4 linked regions of the Homo sapiens genome follow. The protein of the gene in region 2 purifies or fractionates together with the protein of the main gene of each other region. This does not show direct contact. Each region holds a gene or a part of one and is shown on either strand. Other genes may lie near its edges.

What was found. Proteins that work in one complex are often made in the same cells at the same time.
Region 1: the proteins of CD8B (region 2) and TMED8 purify together in Homo sapiens (affinity purification with mass spectrometry; one large-scale study listed by BioGRID and IntAct). This does not show direct contact.
Region 3: the proteins of CD8B (region 2) and ERGIC2 purify together in Homo sapiens (affinity purification with mass spectrometry; one large-scale study listed by BioGRID and IntAct). This does not show direct contact.
Region 4: the proteins of CD8B (region 2) and KLRG2 purify together in Homo sapiens (affinity purification with mass spectrometry; one large-scale study listed by BioGRID and IntAct). This does not show direct contact.

The regions. Positions count from the first base shown.
Region 1 is NC_000014.9:77,335,899-77,340,029, forward strand, and holds part of TMED8 (protein TMED8), read right to left. Parts: 3' UTR 1-4,131.
Region 2 is NC_000002.12:86,850,849-86,856,196, forward strand, and holds part of CD8B (T-cell surface glycoprotein CD8 beta chain isoform 5 precursor), read right to left. Parts: intron 2,239-5,348; coding exon 2,149-2,238; intron 1-2,148. UniProt on the Homo sapiens protein: Integral membrane glycoprotein that plays an essential role in the immune response and serves multiple functions in responses against both external and internal offenses. In T-cells, functions primarily as a coreceptor for MHC class I molecule:peptide complex.
Region 3 is NC_000012.12:29,366,760-29,372,107, reverse strand, and holds part of ERGIC2 (endoplasmic reticulum-Golgi intermediate compartment protein 2), read left to right. Parts: intron 1-437; 5' UTR 438-474; coding exon 475-580; intron 581-1,885; coding exon 1,886-1,994; intron 1,995-3,820; coding exon 3,821-3,867; intron 3,868-5,160; coding exon 5,161-5,231; intron 5,232-5,348. UniProt on the Homo sapiens protein: Possible role in transport between endoplasmic reticulum and Golgi.
Region 4 is NC_000007.14:139,451,761-139,457,108, reverse strand, and holds the end of KLRG2 (killer cell lectin-like receptor subfamily G member 2), read left to right. Parts: intron 1-2,894; coding exon 2,895-2,998; intron 2,999-3,401; coding exon 3,402-3,522; 3' UTR 3,523-4,419; downstream 4,420-5,348.

The sequences.
Region 1 (4,131 bases), on a different chromosome or scaffold from region 2:
AAAATGTACTGTTTAGGATATGAGAGACGGAATTAAGATAATGTTTTCCAGATGATTCTTGGCCTGATCCTAAGAATCAACAATAACAATCAATAGCAAGGAACATTACACATTCAACCCTGAGTGATGAAGAGAGTTCAGGAAGAGAGCCCCTTAAACTCTGAATTAAGGGCTCTTTGGTAATATCATATACTATAATATTTCAAACCAAAACTTCAGAAGGGTTCATGATCCTATTTCAGGACTTTAGAAAATATACTTTGTCCTCTGGAAGCAATTTCACATATATTATTTTGCCCCCAGATAAGCCACAACTACCTGCTTAAATTTTTTTTTAAACTATGGAATTAAATAAACATGCATCTCTAGATTTCTAGGGCAACTTTTCATCATATCTTTGAAGAGTCATGACATTAACTCTGGTCCACATACCTGGGGCCTAAAAAAATCAGGTACATATAATAGGAATCACATCATGAGCCTAATTTCAAAGCCAGTGTCTTGCCTTTGGACTGTGTGTGTGAGGCATGCCTATTTGTAAATGAGCTCCACTATCATTGGTTTTAGGCAATAGTGTTTTCTTAGCTTAGAAATTTCTTACCTTAAGAATTCAAACAGGAGGGGCTTTGTTTAGCCTTCTTGGTTTAGGCAGGGACAATGCAACACTTGAGAGGCAGCAGTGATTTCTGAGCAAAATTCTAAGATATATTCGATAGGTTTGCTCTCCCCTCCCCCCATACTCCTACCCTTTGCCCCCTAATTTTATTTTGTTTTCCCTCGTTGTGATCAATTTTAAAAGACAGTTCTCAAGCAGCACAAAACGGTGTAACTTATGCCCCTCCCTTATGCTCCACTAAAACAAGTCTCTTATGTAAATATTAGGGTCACTCAATTCCACACCTTAGAACCACTGGGGTTAAAAGGCAACCTTCTGCAGATAAGTGGTCTTAACAAACAAATATAAAAGCAGACTTTAGAGTCTGGGTTTCAACTAATTCTCTCAAAGAGGGACTGAGCAGGACTCATAAACATAAACTCATATTCCCTACAGATTAAGACTTTTTATGATAATACCTAATTCTACTGCTTAATATAAGACAGCGTTCAGATTTCACTCTTCCATATACATATTATAATGGGACAATATACACTTTTTTAAAAGTCTGAGTTTTTCTTCCCAAAATAACAAAAATATTTTTTAAAGTGCATGTATCAATTCATTAAGAAAAAAATAACTAAGAATGGTCTAATTCCAAATTGCTACCTACTTCCATGATAAAGCTACCTGTTATCTAAGGATTGAGTTTTAATATCAGAGTCCTGAGGACATGTCATCAAGCAACAGAGGTTAGCATAAAGCCCTTCCGGAGCAGCTTCACAATCACTCTTGTACTGACATGCCAGTTAGTAAGGAAAACAGCAGAGATCATGGCCTGAGGGAAGGGGAAAATACAGCACAGATGTATTTTCTTGAAAGATGGAGACCAAGAAACAATTTTTTTTTTTTTGAGACGGAATCTTGCTCTGTTGCCCAGTCTGGAGTGCAGTGGCATGATCTCGGCTCGCTGCAACCTCTGCCTCCTGGGCTCAAGAAATTCTCCCTGCTTCTGCCTCCAGAGTAGCTGGGATTACAGATGCCCGCCACCACGCCCAGCTAATTTTTTGTATTTTTAGTAGCGACGGAGTTTCACTATGTTGGCCAGGCTGGTCTCGAACTCCTGGCCTAAGGTGGTCTGCCCACCTTGGCCTCCCAAAGTGCTGGGATTACAGGCGTGGGCCACGGCGCCTGGCCTCCAAGAAACATTTTTATGAAGACCACCTCCTGGGTAACCCATGTTGAATGAAACAGGTCTGCTAAAAATCAGGGGCTCTCCAACAGAGCCGATATGCAGGGGACATTCTCAGCATTCTCTAATTGGACACTTGTCAAAAGGAACAGAATGTTAGAATCATCTTTGCCTAGGAATTGGTAGTTTAAAATTTTTACATTTATGCGGGGAGTGTGTGTATACATATATATACAGCAAACCAAAAATAAATTCTAAATCCCCCAACCGGCTGAATGGACCCCTGTCTTGGCCCAGGGGATCTCAAAGGAACCTGAAAAACTAGTCCATGATGGGAAGACAGGGTGCCTCATATTATGGTCAGATTACAGGGTGCCTCATATTACCCTCTTCCCTTTGGAATTTAAATACAACTGACCAGCATTAACATTAAAACAGAGATCTTAAGACTAACCAAACAGACCCTTTGTGGCAATAAAATACCAAATCCCAACCTGACTCTGGTATAGCATCACATGACAGCAGGCCCCAAAGGAAATTTACCCCCCAATATATTTATTTGACGTATTTTGAAATGGCCCTACAAAGCTGTCTCTTGTGGGGGAAACTGCATTCTGTAGAGAATCTCCTTCTCTTATTAGGTCTTTTCTGGAGAGTCTGACACCTTTTAAGGCCTAAAAAGAAAAATTCATCATCTGTTCTCTCTGAAGCCTGCTACCTGGAGGCTTCATCTACATGACTTAAGCCAAGCCTCCCTTACTTTAACTTAAGCTGACTTCATCTTTTCAGGTAAAGTTTAACTCTCTCAACCAACTGCCAGTCAGGAACTCTTTGATCTACCTCTGACCTGGAAACCCCCATCTTCAAGATGTCCTGCCTTTCCAGGCCAAACCAGTGTATACCTTACATGTATTGATTTATGGCTTTGCCTGGACCTTCTGTCTCCCTCAAATGTATAAAACTGTAACCCGACTACCTCGGGCACATGTTCTAAGAACCTCCTGAGGCCCCATCATGGGCTCTGAACCTTGGCAAAATAAACCTCTAAATGTATTGAGACCTGTCTCAGATACTTTTTGGTTTACAATATATTTATATTTCTTTTAAGCTGTTTGCTGAAATTTTTTCACAATAAAACACTGGGGGAAAAGAAATCAATACTTTAAATATGTCTTCCTTTCTAAAAGGCCCATCTCTCAACAAAGTGGCAAAACTAAAACTAAAGAAATTTAAGAACTCAGTCACTATAGAGAATTCCAATCTCTCTCCTACTATGAAGCACTTTCTTTCAATTGTTTGTTACTATTTGTTTGTGCTCTAGAGAACAGGGTGAGGATCAAAGCAAACGGTTTTCATTTCATTGTTTGGGTCTATAAATTTGGACTGGGAGGGGCTGAGGAAATGACTGTCTCTTAGAATTTGCTGGGCTGTGGGTTCTCAGTAATTACCTGTGCTTCAGTAAGTAGTATCTTGCCCCTAAAGTTCAATTATTTCAGAAATGTAACATGAAAATAGTGAATTAGACAGTGAAAATATCTTCTTTTAGCTATTTTGTGCTAATGGAACACAGAAACCCTGACAGTTGGTGAAAAACCAGTATGAATGAAATGTAACCATGCCCAGGACTTCAAAAGTGACCAGACCCTAAGAGGCACACAGAGGTGAGGGGAACAAGTCCCTTAGGCTTCCCTGATGCAACAGAACTAGGATTCCAAAGAAAATAAGCAGAGAATCTCATGGTGAAAATAAATAATAACAAGTGTTATCCTTGGGAGCTTGCTGTGTATGGCCTGACTGTTTCAATTTGAGAGAAAGGCAGAAGTTAATAATAAACAGGAAAAATAAGCAAGGCTTTAGCTGACTAGAAAACAGCTCAGTAGAAAATTATTTTACAAAGATTATATTCAGTTAGCTAAGGCATGATTCAACTTCAATGATGCAAGAGCGGTCACTCAGCTATCCAATGGGATGACACACAGCAAATCAGCTCTTCACTGCCTCAACAGACAGTCACTAAAATAATTTCTTTAAAGGTATATAAATGTTGGCCAGTGTAATCCTCTACAAAACACATTTGCAAATATAAAATAATGGAGGTATGATGCTGCTCAGAGAATGGGAATGCTCTGGCAGTCCCCAACATCCTATCCCACTTGGGGCTTTGCTCCGAGGGGAAGAGCAGGTGCAGGATATATTGCCCTTTGATGTGATGTAGATGCTACTAGGGACCCACTGGGAAGAGTCCCGTTCCTTGAGTTATGCTACTGTAGGGATAGACCCTTGGTGTGAGGAATCTAACAATGAGTCAAAGGAAACATCACAAAGAAGGTGACACCTCAGAGGA
Region 2 (5,348 bases):
GGGAGGCCAAGGCAGGTGGATCACCTGAAGTCAGGAGCTCAAGACCAGCTTGGCCAACATGGTGAAACCCTGCCTCTACTAAAAATATAAAAATTAGCCAAGCGTGGTGGTGGGCACCTGTAATCCCAGCTACTCTGGAGGCTGAGGCAGGAGAATCACTTGAACCTGGGAGGCGGAGGTTGCAATGAGCTGAGATCACGCCACTGCACTCCAGCCTGGGCAACACAGTGAGACTCCATTTCAAAAAAAAAAAAAAAGAAAGAAAGAAAAGAAATTATGCAAGAAATCTGAAGACCTTTGTTTTTGCCATCATTTATAAAAGTATGACTGAGTTTGCCGTCATTCAGCTGTCCTTACATGAAGATGAATGGGCAGATTGCTTCTCGAATTTAGTGCTAGGATGAAGGTTTCTTCTTTTGGTGGCAGGTTGTTTCTTTCTATCACTGGGGTTGGGGTGCCATACAACTTGGGGTCTTCCCTTTGTTTAAACTGATGTTGCCGGGTTCTCCACAGCCGTAGCACACAACCGGTTCTTGCGCCCTCATCTTAGTGGCTCTATTGTATTTGCCTTTTATATCCTTTTTATGGTAGTCTGCCTGAAATCGTTTAGGTGAAGGGGTCAGGGCATGGGACTTTATAAAATAAGGTTACTCTTAAGCTCCTTAAGACTTTACTCTTCTGTACATTGGTTCTGATTTTCTTTTTACTGTGACCTCATGTGACGGCAGCTTCCCACCCTGGTCTCCCAGATCCTATTCAGTGCCGTCCTCAATAATTTCTGGTGCTTAAAATATTTAAGACAAAGCAAACTGAGCAGTGCGAGGCAGTGCTCCAGGGGCTGCTTGTGGTTTGTTTTCTGGGTAGCAGCAGATGGCACTTTCTGTTTGTCACCAGTGACTTTTGCTGGGCTGAGGTCAGTATTTTTCCAGAAACACGTTTGGGCTGATGGGTTTAAGGAAAACGTGTGCATGGGCATGTGTGTCTGTGTGTGTGTGTATGTGGCATACACTCCAGCTGAGGTGTCTGGTGTAGCATAGAGAAGCAAATGTGTTCATTTGCAAACAAACATGTATTCATGAACTAGCACATACTGTGTATTAGGTCCTCTGTTAGGTATTAAAACTGGAAACTTTTTTTTGAGACAGGGTCTGGCTCTATCACCCAGGCTGGAGTGCAGTGGCAGGATCTCAGCTCACTTCAATCTCCACCTCCCAGGCTCAAGGCATCCACCTCAGCCTCCTGAGTAGCTGGGACTACAGGCATGTGCCACCACGCCCAGCTAATTTTTTTACATTTTCGTAGAGACAGAGTTTCACCGTGTTGCCCAGGCTGGTCTCTAACTCCTGAGCTCAAGGCGATCCACCCATCTGGGCCTCCCAAAGTGCTGGGATTACAGGTGTGAGCCACCACATCTGGCCAAAACTGGAAAAGTTTAAAGTGCTGGTCCTTTGAGTGGATTTTTTGTTTGTTAACAGCTTTATTGAGTTATAATTTACGTATAAAGTCCCCTTGTTTAAAGTGTACAATGTCATGGTTTTTAGTGTATTCATGGAGTTGTGCAACCATTATCATAATGTAATTTCAGAACATTTAAATTCCCCTAAAAAGAAACCTTATACCCATTAGGAATCACTCCCCATTTCTTTCCCAAGCCCCCAGCCTTAGGCAGCAACCAATCTACATTCTGTCTCTACAGAGGATCATATGCTGGATATTCCATAATCATGGAATCATATAGTATATGGATTTTTGTGACTGGCTCCTTTCATTTTATTCTTTATTATGGCCAAACAATATTCCACGATAATAAATAAGCCACATTTTGTTAATCAGCTCATTAGCTGGTGGATGTTTGGGTAGTTTCTGCTTTTGGCTAGTATGAATAATGAAGCTATGGACATTTGTGTGCAGGGGTGTGGGTGGAGATCTCCTCCATTAAGCTTTGTCCAGTAACAATTTATGAGTCTGTCTCCCACGAGACTGTGAGTTGCTGGCACACTCAGCATCCTTTCTGACCCTAGCTTAGGCCGGGGAGATAGGCTCTAGAGTTGACACTTGGAAAGTGCCTGGGGAAGGAAGGAGGGGAGGGAGGGAGGGCAAGGGGATGTCTGCCTTGTTTCTGAGGGTGCAGAGGGATAGGGAACTCACCCTTCTGGGTCTCTGGCCTGGGTAACCGGCACACTCTCTTCTTGAGGGTGGACTTCTTGGTGGGCTGGGCAGTGGTGGGAAGGAAATCAACTACAGAAAGAAAGCAAGACACATATCTTAGCCAAGTGAACACCACGTGGACTCAAAGACAAAACTTTGTCTTATGGCGGGTGCGGTGGCTCATGCCTGGAATCCCAACACTTCCGGAGGCCAAGGCAGGAGATCATTTGAGCTCAGGAGGTTGAGACCAGCCTGGGCAACATGGTGAAACCCCCTCTCTACAAAAAATAAAAAGTTTAGCCAGGCGTGGTGGCATATGCCTACAGTCCCAGCTACCCAGGAGGCTGAGGTGAGAGGATCACCTGAGCTTGGGAAGTCAAGGCTGAAGTGAGCCATGATCATGCAACTGCACTCTGGCCTGGACGACAGAGCAAGACCCTGTCTCAAGAGCAAATAAATGAACAAATGAACAAAATTTGTCTTACATCCAAGTACTGAAGTCCTTATGACTGTTCCCCAGGCTGCTACAGGGCTTGAAGGTCACAGAGCAATAGAATGTTTGATCTGCTTTCTGAATTCTCAGATGTTGGGAAAGGGGTGAGGGCCTAGAGATGGGGTTCAGCTTGGTGTCCTGGAGAGAGGAAGGCTCTGGAGCCACACAGAACTGAGCAGAGCCTACACCTCTGATTTATTTATTTTTATTTATTTATTTATTTATTTATTTTTTGAGACAAAGTCTCGCTCTGTAGCCCAGGCTGGAGGGCAGTGGCACGATCTCGGCTCACTGCAACCTTTGCCTCCCAGGTTCAAGCAATTATCCTGCCTCAGCCTCCAGAGTAGCTGGGATTACAGGCACGTACCACTGCATTCGTCGTGCCACTGCATTCGTCGTGCCACTGCATTCGTCTAATTTTTTGTATTTTTAGTAGAGACGGGGTTTCACCATGTTGGCCAGGCTGGTCTTGAACTCCTGATCTCAGGTAATCCACTCACCTCGGCCTCCAAAAGTGCTAGTATTACAGGTACGAGCCACCGCACCCGGCCGACCTACACCCCTGATTAACCGCTGTGTGACTTGGGACAAGTCATAGCATTTTTCTGTGCCTTGATTTCCTTATCTGCTGAAATAATGATAACTGCCACCTCCTTCTTGGGATTATCTGAGAATGAAAGGGACAGTGTGTCCAAAAAAAGTTTCAGTAGATGTGGCTCCACCTGGCTGAAGACCTTGAGCCCCAGGGCTGGATCGCCCAGCCTTTGGCACAACGAGCCCCTCCGCCCAACTCGGCATTCCCTAAGCACATGGAGGAAGCTCATGGAAGGAGGGGGTGCCCTTTTCTGCATGTAGAGTACCACACAGGTGTCATATTTGGGGATTGGTTTTCCTTCTCAGATGGCCCTAAAATATATATATAATACCAGAGCTAAGGGAAGTTCAGTCTCAAACTTTAATTTCAAAGGTGAACGCCAGAGATGAGGGGAGCTGGCCCCTGCAGCCCCAAGTGGTGAGTGCTGTGTTGGGACCCCAAACCCCTGTCCTGACTCCTGGATGGGTCACCCCTCTCCTTCATTTTTACCCAGTGACCCCTGCTGAAGTGTTGGGAGGGGCAGTGGGCCAGCACCCAGAGCAAAGGAAGACAGCTGTGGCTCTGATGCCTACTGGGGATGAAGGGGGCACTGCTGGCCACAGAGTCCAACCCTTGCCTTTGTGGGTTAAGGAAACAGATCTCTCTGCACTGATTTTCTCCAAAATGGTAGGAGAGGGAGTAAGGAGACACCATGAACCTAAACTCTAGAGTCAGGGGGACAGAAAAAAAAAAAAGAAAAGAAAAGAAATATTAAGGCTGGGCGCGGTGACTCACGCCTGTAATCCCAGCACTTTGGGAGGCCGAGGCAGGCAGATCACCTGAGGTCAGGAGTCCAAGACCAGCCTGGCCAACATGGCAAAACCCTGTGCCTACTAAAAATACAAAAATTAGTTGGGCGTGGTGGCACGTGCCTGTAATCCCAGCTACTCAGGAGGCTGAGGCAGCAGAGTCGTTTGAACCTGTGAGGCAGAGGTTGCAGTCAGCCAAGATCCTGCCACTAAACTCCAGCCTGGGTGACAGTGACTCCGTCTCAAAAAAAAAAAAGGTTTTGGGGGGTTGTAAGGGGGAACAGGCAGGGGAAGCCCACAGATCAGTCATTTTTGGGCTGGCATCTTCTATATAAAAGTAGACATTTTAACCCCTCACCTCTCTGAGCCTCCTCTGGAAAGCGGAGAGAACACGATCTGTTTGTCTGCTTCAAGACATTGATGGGAAGAAGCAACTAGGATGAAAGTGCACTAAGCTCCAACCATGTGTGGGGAGCAGTGCTGAGCCTTTCAGCATAAGTTTACTGGACACAACAACTTTTGGGGCAGGCACTGTTGTCCCCATTTTATCCAGGAGGAAGCCTAGGCTCAGAGAGCTGAAATAATGTGTCCAAAGTTAGACAGCCACTGGCTGCAGAGCCAGTATCTGCACCAAAAGACCTTGATTCTAGAACCTGTGCTTCTCGTTCTGCCACACTACCTCACGTGCAAAGATTTTCTGACAAAAGTTGAACACTTTAGGTCCACCCAAGGCCCTGGGTCATCATAGTGCTGAGGGCAACTATTGTAAGAGGAAACTGTCATCAGCAGGGTCGGAGAGCGTGCAACGAGCCTGGCCCTCTCCTGGGAGTGTTGCCTCCTTCAATCCTCATGGCCCTAGAAGTAGTTCTGTTTGACTTATTTTCTACCCGAGGAAGCAGGGACGTCTTTCAGATGGTCAGTGGTGAGCCCAGAGGGGAGCCAACTCTTTGGGCCCTCAGTGCCTTGGCTGGGCACCGCCGCCTGGGTCTAGTGGGAGACTCAGGTTGGGGGACTGTTCTGTTTTAAATTCTTCTTGCCTAGAGCCAGGTCCCCCTGGATTCCTCCTGAGCACCCAGTTTAATCTCTCCCTCTCTGTTCTTAAAAGGAATAAAACTTCGAGCCCATGATATACTTAAGGGCCTGAAAAAGGCCCTGTCTTTCCCCAAACACTTTCTCAACCATCCCAGCTTTGTCCTCTAAAAGGCCTTTCTTGGGTGAGAAGGTGGGGTTCGGCTCCGAAGAAGGTCTGGTTGCAAGCCCTGGGGAGAAGCAGGTTTGGCTGCAAGCCAGAGCTGGAGAGAGGCATTGACATTCCTATAGTGCT
Region 3 (5,348 bases), on a different chromosome or scaffold from region 2:
TCGGCCTCCCAAAGTACTGGGATTACAGGCGTGAGCGACCGTGCCTGGCCTATATTCTTGTTAGTAATGTATGAGCAGGCCATTTTACTTCACTGTCATTCATTATTGGAAGTGTATTATTTTTATATAGTTTTCAATTTAATAGAAAACATTATCTTAATTTTTATATTTAGACATTATTCATGTGATTGAATTACTTTTCACTTTTTTTCTTGCTATATAATGTGTTTTTGTATTTAAATTGCCTTCCATTAGTAGTTTTTGTCAGGGCATGAATGGGGAAAGGAGTAGTGTGGATAAATACTATGCTTTTTATTTTTAAGGGGGGATGAGAATGTTAAGTTGTTTTAAGGACATTTGTCAGTTATCCTAAATTTAAAGAAACCTTTTTATCTCTTTAAAGGATTCATTTATTCATTAATTTATTTATTCCTTAGCATGACTATATGAAGGAAGAGGAAGGTTTTCCTGAAGATGAGGCGACTGAATCGGAAAAAAACTTTAAGTTTGGTAAAAGAGTTGGATGCCTTTCCGAAGGTTCCTGAGAGCTATGTAGAGACTTCAGCCAGTGGAGGTACAGGTGAGTATCAGTTAACATTAAAAGTTCTGTAGTAAGTACAACTTCTGCGTGATCCAGTCAACAACATATAGAAATGTAGCCATGAGGAAGAATTTATCAATGAATTCTGCCGTAACTTCGTAACTTGTCTGTCTTCATGCCACTCTGTTGGCTGTAATTCTTATTAATATTCTCTATAGCCTCCAACACAGTGCCATCTGTGCCTTTGGCAGTGTTTATTAAAACATTAATACATTAAACCAATGTTTCTGCTTTGCTGCCCTTTCCTAAATATGTGACCTTGAGGAAGTTATTCAAATCTATCTGTCTTAGTTTCTTCCATGAAATAGGGATCATACTAGTATTTACCTCCTAGGGGTTACTATACTATTAATATTTTCATAAAATGCTTAGACCCAGTGCCTGGTACAGATAAAAGTATCAGTTAAGTAAAATAAATAATGAAATATATAAGAAAAATGTGTGACTATAACAATATTCAGTATAATTTCTTTCCCTATGAAAAGGTAGTAAAATAATGTATTTCACTTAAGGTTGACATTTTATTTGGTAAAATGGGTAATAAGTTGCTTACTATTTCTGATCCACTTGTGATTAAGTTTTGTTAATGAAAATAGTGCAAGTTCTTGCAAAATCTATTTTAAGTATTTTGCTTTAGTATATAATAGATTTTCTTTTTGTCAGATCTTTTACTCAGTTCTGTGAATGAGGTGATATATTTAGGAGATTGCCAAGTAGAGGAGAGTTTTGTTAGCTATTTAGAGATGTTATTTGAGTTTCTGGCACACAGATTATTGTGGTTTCTCAGGATCTAAGAAATTAGGCTACCTTTTTGTTTGTTTTAAATTGGGCTTATAGCCCAATTTATATACATTTATATACAAATTATATTTATAGACATGGATGCATTTTTAATAATGAAGCAACTGTTTTCAAATTTGTGCTATAAGGCATGCTTACTTTCATCATTTATCCTATCTGTGACACTGTTTTATATAAGAAATACAAATTTTGTCAACTCTACTTAGTGAGAGATGCCCTTAAAATTGGAGAAATAAAATGCTTTCTTAGTAATGCAAGTGTTTATGTTCATATTTGTATATATTAAACCTTAACTTTTGAGCTGTATTAGAAAAAATGCATAATAAACATTTTGAATAAAAACCTTCTATAGTATGCATTCAAATGGAAGTTACATTATTAGGCTTTTTCTTTTGAAAATTTAATCTCACTTAAATTAGTTTCCTATTCTTTGCTTTTTTTATTGTTTTAATTCTGTTTTTCTTTTGTTGTTGGATTTCCCAGTTTCTCTAATAGCATTTACAACTATGGCTTTATTAACCATAATGGAATTCTCAGTATATCAAGATACATGGATGAAGTATGAATACGAAGTAGACAAGGATTTTTCTAGGTAATCATTTTTTTTCTTCTTGGAATACCTTTAGATTCAAATTGTTTTAAAAAGAGCATACCTTTTAAAAAAGAAAAAGTCTAACCTTCTAGATTTGGTTTGTTTTAGTTCTGAAGAAATAGTCCTGAAAAATTCTCATTAATTGCATGCATTAAGTGAAACCTTTTAGAATCATTTAAATAGTGGTTGAATTCTAAAACTGAGGTTCTTTGATTTAGCATGCTTTGTTTCAAAAAGTTAGGGGAATATTTTTCCTTAGATATGTATATTGTGGAAATTGTTTAATATTTGAAACTGGTTGAAATACCTCACTGATCTGTGTGAGCTGGAAAATAAGTTGTCTAAGGATACATTGTATACCCTTATGACTTGATGTCTATAAATTATACCTAAGCTAAATCTTTATGTAAATAAGATTACTTTTAAACTTTTGAAAATATAGTACCTTAATTATACACTTTACATCTATTCGTTTGTATTATTTGGATTTCTTCAATGGAATGAAGATAATAGGTTTATAATATTAAGATTGCACCAAATAGGAAGACACATTTAGTTTTCAATTACAATCCAGGTTTGCCATTTACATAATTTTAGGGAATTTACTAAATCTGCACCTGTATATGCTTCAGTTTCCTTTTTTGTAAAGTACAGACAGCAATTATAGTATCTTCCTCAAGAGGTTTATGAGAATTAAATTAGTCAACATTTGTAAATTGCTGTGTAACCTTGGGCAGGTCACACCACTGACTTCTTTTGGACTTCAGTTTCTTCATCTCTAATGTACTATTCAGGATAGTATTGGTTTTCAAAGAATTTGTTGTTGTTTTCAGCACCAATGCAATACTTCATTTTTTTCCAAATGAAGTCTTATGTATTACATAGTTCGCCACATAAGCATGGTGAGGATATGCAGAAGTTTGTCTACTTGGCCTACTCCTGGTTCCTATCTCCTGAGCCTAAACTCCTGGGTTATTTGGAACACAGTTTGAACTCTAGATGACTTTAAGACTTCATGAAGGTCTAAAAATCTGTAATTCCTATTTTAAATCAGATGAAAATTATTACACAGAAAAAAGTTATCATAGAAAGCACAGGACTGAATTTGATCATAGCCAGTCTATTATTCGCAATGCTTCATTCTGGTATTCGAAAATTGCTTTGATCTAATCATTTGAAAATGAAAGGCCATGAAAAATTTTAAGCATCAGGTGATTTACTTTTGGTAGTTTGGTTGCATTTATCCTGAGTTACATAGACCTAGTTTCCAGTATGCCACTTTAATGGTGATGTGATCTTAAGCCAGGTATTTACACTACCGTGAACACCAGTGGTTTACTTGAAAATCTGTGAAGCCATCCATTTATAGCTCCATGATATAGAATAAAGGAGATAATATTTGTAGAACATCTAGCATCATGCTTAATATATGGTGTTTGATAAACAGAGAAGAAAGACAATTCCTAATTCTTGATTTTGAGAGTTTTACATTCTTAAAAGAACATTCTATCAAAAGTTTATGTAAATAGAGATTAAGAGGTTAAGACTTTTTCTGAGTTGCTTAGAGTTATTGATTATAGAGTTGCCATTATTAAAGGATACTGTGTTCAAAAACCTGTGAAGTCAGAAAGGCTTTTGGAATAAGGGCAAAATAGAACTTGTAATTTAAAGAGCCTTTGTTTTGGCCATGAGAAATGCAATTCAAGTTCTAATCGACATAATTTATTCTGCTTGAAATCCAAGTTTTTAATAGGTCAGTTGATTTATATTTCTCATGTTTTGCTAATTAATTGGTAGGTACTAATGTTTAATATTTTGTCTTTCAGCAAATTAAGAATTAATATAGATATTACTGTTGCCATGAAGTGTCAATGTAAGTACACCTTCAACTTGCTGAATCCACATGTAGGTTATGGTTCAAACAATTGCCAAGCAAAAATAAAAATCACTGGTTGTACTTTATTTTTCCTTTATAATATTTTAAAGTTTTACTGTGGTATTATTTAATAATACAAATTGTTTTACTCCTCAGCTTATATTCTTCAAGTTTCTTTTCCATAAAGAGAAGAGATAAAACTTTCACATTAGTATAATTAAAAGAAAGTTGGAGGAAATGTTTGTGAATCAGCATTCTAGTTTATGTACATCCTTTCTGTCTTTTTTTGTTTGGAGTACTAGCTTTTATACCCATGTTTCACAAGCATATCCTTGTGTCACTGTTTCAGTTTACCACCTTTTATGTTTACTCTTGCGTTTAAAAATACAGATCCAGTTATTTTAAGTTAATGGTGATAGGTTACCCTTTTCTTTTTTCGTCACTGGACTCACTTGGTTATACTAATAGAAGTGGAAAAATGCTAATATGCCAGATAGTGAATGTTTGAATCAATACTGTTTTCAAAAATAAGAATGCTTTTGCATGAAAAATATTTTATGAGTTACTGCTTAAAAATTACAGACCAAGAACTCAGAGAAAATTTTTACATTTTTAAAAGTATGAAATAATTTTACCCAATTAATTAGAGGTTATTTTCTGTGAGATTCTATCTCAGAACGACCTTGAATCTCTTTCTTTTCAATATGTTTTTCCTTATGTTGGTGGTTTTAAGAGATAAAAAAATACTTTATTTTTAAACTTGTAGTTAGTGGTAATTCTGAATATATGATATTCTGCCTTATTTTGGATGTTTAAATACTGTTAAATTTTAGCCTTTTCCGAATAAAATTTCCTATTTGTTGATTTGTAGCATAGCTTTACGATTTCTTTTAATCTCTAAAAATATTTCTTGGAATTAATATTTTGTTCAGCAGCCACTTAGTACTTGTGATTAGGTTCTTGCCGATATTTGCAAAGCTCTTCAATTCAGTGACGCTTATCCTTTTTAAATGAGATCTTGAATTATCTTTTTTTTTTTATTGGGTAAGAAGTTTTTTACTGGGTAAGAAAAAACATTATTACATTTTGGAATAATCTCCACCTAAGCTATATAAGGCTACTGTTTTAGCTTTTGGACAAATATATCGGAAATTATTCTACATAGTTGGTGAGGTTTTTTTTTTTTTTTTGCTTGGTGAGTTTTCTGTTAGTTGGCTTAATTTGTTTATATTGGGGATGGTTTGCCTCCAAGCATAGAATGTAAAACTTCTAATTCTTTTTTCTATGCAGATGTTGGAGCGGATGTATTGGATTTAGCAGAAACAATGGTTGCATCTGCAGATGGTTTAGTTTATGAACCAGTAAGTTTGATTCACATGGTTTTTTGAAATACACGGGTTGAGGAATCGTACGCTTGAAGACAGATAGTTGCTTTTAGTTTTGTCTGAAATAGTTTTTAGTATAATTCTTTTATTTCA
Region 4 (5,348 bases), on a different chromosome or scaffold from region 2:
TTCAAGAAGGGTAAGATTAGCAACCTTCAGCCTGGGAAGTTGCCCCTGACTTCTCTCTGGGCTGTTAACTGACTGGTGCTAACCTTGAGGGGCAGAAGATGGGTTTTCCGTGACACTTCTGGGATACACAGTGGCCTGATGGCCTGGTCTCACTGTGGCTCTGCTGATTTTTGGCAGTGAGCGCGGGGAGGCAGTTTCACTGAGTTGACCTACTGTGTACTGGGTTATCATAGTGCGATGCTGAGTAAGACAAGCTCCTGGCCCGCACCAGGTTCACCAACTAATACAGGAAAGTGACAAGGAGGCAAGCCATTAGAAGGCAGCACATGAGTGGTGGCACGCACCAGCAGTCCCAGCTACTTCGGAGGCTGAGGTGGGAGCATCGCTTGAGCCCAGAGGTTCAAGGCCAGCCTGGACAACGTAGTGAGATCCTGTCTCTTAAAAAATAAAAAAGAGAGGCTGGGTGCAGTGGCTTATACCTGTAATCCTAGCACTTTGGGAGGCCGAGGTGGGTGAATCATCTGAGGTCAGGAGTTCAAGACCAGCCTGGCCAACATGGTGAAACCCCATCTCTACTAAATTGGGCGTCATGGCAGGTGCCTGTAATCCCAGCTACTTGGGAGGCTGAGACAGGAGAATTCCTTGAACACGGGAGACGGTGGTTGCAGTAAGCCGAGATTGTGCCACTGCACTCCAGCCTAGGTGGCTGAGCAAGACTCCGTCTCAAAAATAAAAATTAAAAAAATAAAAATAAAAAAGAGACAGCTCTATTCTGTGAAAGTTGTGGAAACCAAGGGGAGGGAGGAGCACCTATTTCACCTTGGAGAGGGTCAGCCCAGTGTCCGTTAAAAAAGCCACCTTTAAATCAGTTCTGAAGGATGGAGGAGGTGGCAGCAACAGGACAATCATCACTCTAATTCCCAGGGCTTGTCTTTGTTGACTTAAACCATTTTCTTAGGGAAGAAGAACTGAGCATATGCGAAATTCATTTATACCGCTCTGCTCCTAACCTGCCTCAGTGTGAATATGTGCTTCTTGACATTGTTGTGAGTGATATGTACTTGCTAGTGTAGTCTTTTTTTTTTTACATGGCATGATTTCATATTTACATTTTCCTGCATAATGACATTTTCTATACACTTGTCATTTTTAATAGCACTATAATTTTCCATCATGTTGACATCCTATAATTTACCTTGTTATTTCTTGATTGCTGAGCGTTTGGGGAGTTTCCAGTTTTTCTTCACAAATAGCACCGTGTTATCTTTAGATAAGTTCATTTTTTTCCCTTTATATTCTTGGATTTATTTCTCAGTGAAATCACCCATTTGAGCAGGAGTGGTGGTGCTGCTCTTGTCACATAGCACCAAACGACATTTCAGAAAGAACAAGCTGATGCGGGCCGTGCCGGCATCACTGCCCCCTCCACCACGTCCCCACCCTGGGACTTAAAAGATTTAAACTTTTTTTTCCAAGTTAAAAAATCTTGGCCGGGCGCGGTGGCTCACGCCTGTAATCCCAGCACTTTGAGAGGCCGAGGCAGGCGGATCACGAGGTCAGGAGATCGAGACCATCTTGGCTAACACGGTGAAACCCCATCTCTACTAAAAATACAAAAAATTAGCCAGGCATGGTGGCGGGTGCCTGTAGTCCCAGCTACTCGGGAGGCTGAGGCAGGAGAATGGCGTGAACCCAGGAGACAGAGCTTGCAGTGAGCCGAGATCGCGCCACTGCACTCCAGCCTGGGCAACAGAGCGAGACTCTGTCTCAAAAAAAAAAAAAAAAAATCTTGGCCGGGTACAGTGGCTCACACCACTAATTCTACACTTTGGGAGGCTAAAATGGACAGATCACTTGAGGCCAGGAGCTCAAGACCAGCCTAGGCCAACACGGCAAAACCCTTCCCTACTAAAAATACGAAAATTACCTGGGTGTGGTGGTGCATGCCTGTAGTTCCAGCCTCTCAGGAGGCTGAGGCGGGAGAATCGGTTGAACCTGAGAGGCGGAGGCTGCAGTGAGCCAGGATCGTGCCACTGCACTCCAGCCTGGGTGACAGAGCAAGGCTCCATCTCAAAAAAAAAAAAATCTTAAATATATACTTTAAAACATTGTCTTTTTTGCTTTAATTCATTGTTAAAAATAGTGTGACATTGAGGGCAAATATTTAAAAGAAAAAAGTCTCCTCTAGTACCTCTCCAGCACACTTACTTTGGTTTTTGTTGTTCCTGCACATCTGCGTGTGTTATTATTATTATTATTATTATTATTATTATTATTATTATTATTATTTTGAGATAGAATTTCCCTCTTGTCAGCCCAGGCTGGAATGCAGTGGCGCAATCTCGGCTTACTGCAACCTCTGTCTCCTGGGCTCAAGCGATTCTCCTGTTTCAGCCTCCCAAGTAGCTGGGATTACAGGCGCCCGCCACCATGCCCAGCTAATTTTTTTTTTTTTAATAGAAACGGGGTTTCACTATGTTGGACAGGCCGGTCTCGAACTCCTGGCCTCAGGTAATCTGCCAGCCTCGGCCTCCCAATGTGCTGGGATTACAGGCATGAGCCACCGTGCCTGACCACCTCCCTCGCTTTCTGAGCTTCCTTGTTTCTTTGCCCACTCAATGCCCACTGAGCATCACTTAGTGGTGTTTGGCGTTCACATCCCTTTGGCTGAGACGGGGTCACCCTCATTTTGGCCCCCAGCCCTGAGCACAGAACCTGGCACCCAGCAGGCATCCAATCCAGCTTTCAAGGTTTTTTTGTTCTGCAAGTGCTGGCTTGAGCAGATCCTTCTGGATTGGCCAGCTGGGATCCTGTGGAAGCCCCAGGGAATCCGTACGCCCCAGGCAAGCCACGCCAGTGTCCAGGGGAGTGACCAGCTTACTTTTCTCCCTCAGGACTTCCTGGGCAGATACCCAGTCTCCAGGCACTCCTGGGTGGGGGCCTGGCGAGGCCCCCAGGGCTGGCACTGGATCGACGAGGCCCCACTCCCGCCCCAGCTGTGAGTGACCACGGGCTTTTCTCCCTCCTCTGCTGTTCTGGATCCTCCATTTCTCCCCAGACTCCACCTCCTTGCTGCTCCCCTAGCCTGGAATGCCACTTGGAAAGCAGCCCACGCCCATGCTCGCGGCCTGGTGCCTGATTAGACCCTGTCGCTTCACTCTTTATTTGGGTTCCCAGCACGTTCACCCAAGCAGGGTTGTCACCCCCATTTTACAGATGCGGGGTCAGCTGCCCAGGGAGGTTTGGGGATTCATCCAGTGCCACGTGGCTGACCAGTGCAGTGACTCACTCAGTGCCCAGGCCGGTAGAGGTGACAGGCACACACGCTGGAGGGTCTGGCTGGGAAGCAAGGCCCCGGCACCCTAAACACCTCTCCTCTTTCCCCTCCCATCCTTTCCCAGACTCCCTGAGGACGGCGAGGACAATCTGGATATCAACTGTGGGGCCCTGGAGGAAGGCACGCTGGTGGCTGCAAACTGCAGCACTCCAAGACCCTGGGTCTGTGCCAAGGGGACCCAGTGATCTGGGCTCTGCCTGGTCCTCAGCCTGCCAGGCAGATGCAGCACCCCCTACAGGGGAGGCCAGTTGAGAGCTTGGGCAGCCTCTTCCTGGACCCAGTTATCCAGGTCTTCATGCTCTGCTCAAGGGGGCCACATGAGCGAGCCTAGGAGCTGGACTTCAACCCAGGAAGATGCATCCGAGGGAAAGGAGATTTTCTATGGCCTCAGGCCTGAGTGCCAATATTAGTCTCCAGCTTCTGTGGATGATCGGTTTGATGACATTGGGATGGTTGTTTAGCATTTCTGTGCCTTGGTTTCATTAAAATGACAATTTCCCCCTAGAGGAAAAAGACAGGGTTAACAACCACAGCGGATTCCAATCTGGGTTCTCATTCCGGCTCATGGAAATGAGTCTGCCGTTGTTCAGTGGCAGTGGGACTTGGCAGGGATAACGTCATTGCTGTGAATTCTACTTCAGGCAGCTGGGTGTACATCGGACACAGCCTACCGGCAGCCTCTGGAAAATTAACCAAGGAAAAGGAGCGGTCAGCCCTGGAAAGAGGGGAGAGCAAGGTTTTCCTTCCCCACCCTGAGAGTTGGCAAAGGGTTGGCAGACAGGAAGGTTCTGGGTGGAGATCCCGCATGTGGGCTGGCCAGCCCCTGGCACGCTGATGCCCAAGGGTGAGACAAGGCAGAGAGGACAGGGCCACCTGGCAGGAGAAGCCAGGAGAGCACCCCAGCTTGGTAGGTGGAAGCTGAGGAGTCTGAGTGAAAAAGGAAATCAGAGAAATGCAGGCACGTTCCAGGCAGCTCTTCTACCCACAGCTGCAGAGACGACCAACCTGAAGATGTCTCCATGCTGGGGTGCAGTGAAGACCTTCAGGCTGGAGGATGTGGCTGACAGAGTTGTGTAGTTCCTTGAGTCCAGCTAGACCTCCAAACAGCAGGAGCCTGGGCCTGCGTGTTGGCTTGGTGCTGAGCACGCACTCAACTGGCCCTTGCAAGCCAGCCTTCCCTCAAAAGTCAGACCATGCACCCAGATCCCTCCCAAACAGAAATCCTTATTGGTGCGTTTGAACCAGTAATGGGCCGTCTGGGAGAATGGGATGGAGAGTCCTAGATGGGAGAAATTTCTCACACTGTATTTTTCATTAGTATTATTATACTTTAAGTTCTGGGGTACATGTGCAGAACGTGCAGGTTTGTTACATAGGTATACACATGCCATGGTGGTTTGCTGCACCCATCAACTTGTCATCTACATTAGAAATTTCTCCTAATGCTATCCCTGCCTTCTCACACTCCTGAAAGTAATAACAAAAAGGGAAATGGAGGCCGGGCACGGTGGCTCATGCCTGTAATCCCAGCATTTTGGGAGGCCGAGGTGGGCGAATCACAAGGTCAGGAGTTCGAGACCAGCCTGCCAGCCTGGCCAACATGGTGAAACCCTGTCTCTACTAAAAACACAAAAAAATAGCTGGGCGTGGTGGTGGGTGCCTGTAATTCTAGCTACTCGGGAGGCTGGGGCAGGAGAATTGCTTGAACCCAGGAGGCGGAGGTTGCAGTGAGCCGAGATTGTGCCACTGCACTGCAGCCCGGGTGACAGTGCAAGACTCTGTCTCAAAAAAAAAAAAAAAAAAAAGGACATGGAAATTCCCTGGCTGGATGTGAAATGGGTGGCTCACGTGGGGCAGGCGCCAATCAAAATACATCCTATGTGGGCAGGAAGCTGTGTATGTTACCGCCCCCATCCCCTGCCATGTGTTCCCAGGATCTGTGCCTGGAGAAATGACACATCTGTAGGTTATGAGTATACAGAACCTTATCTAGCCTTCTCAGTACCTTTTA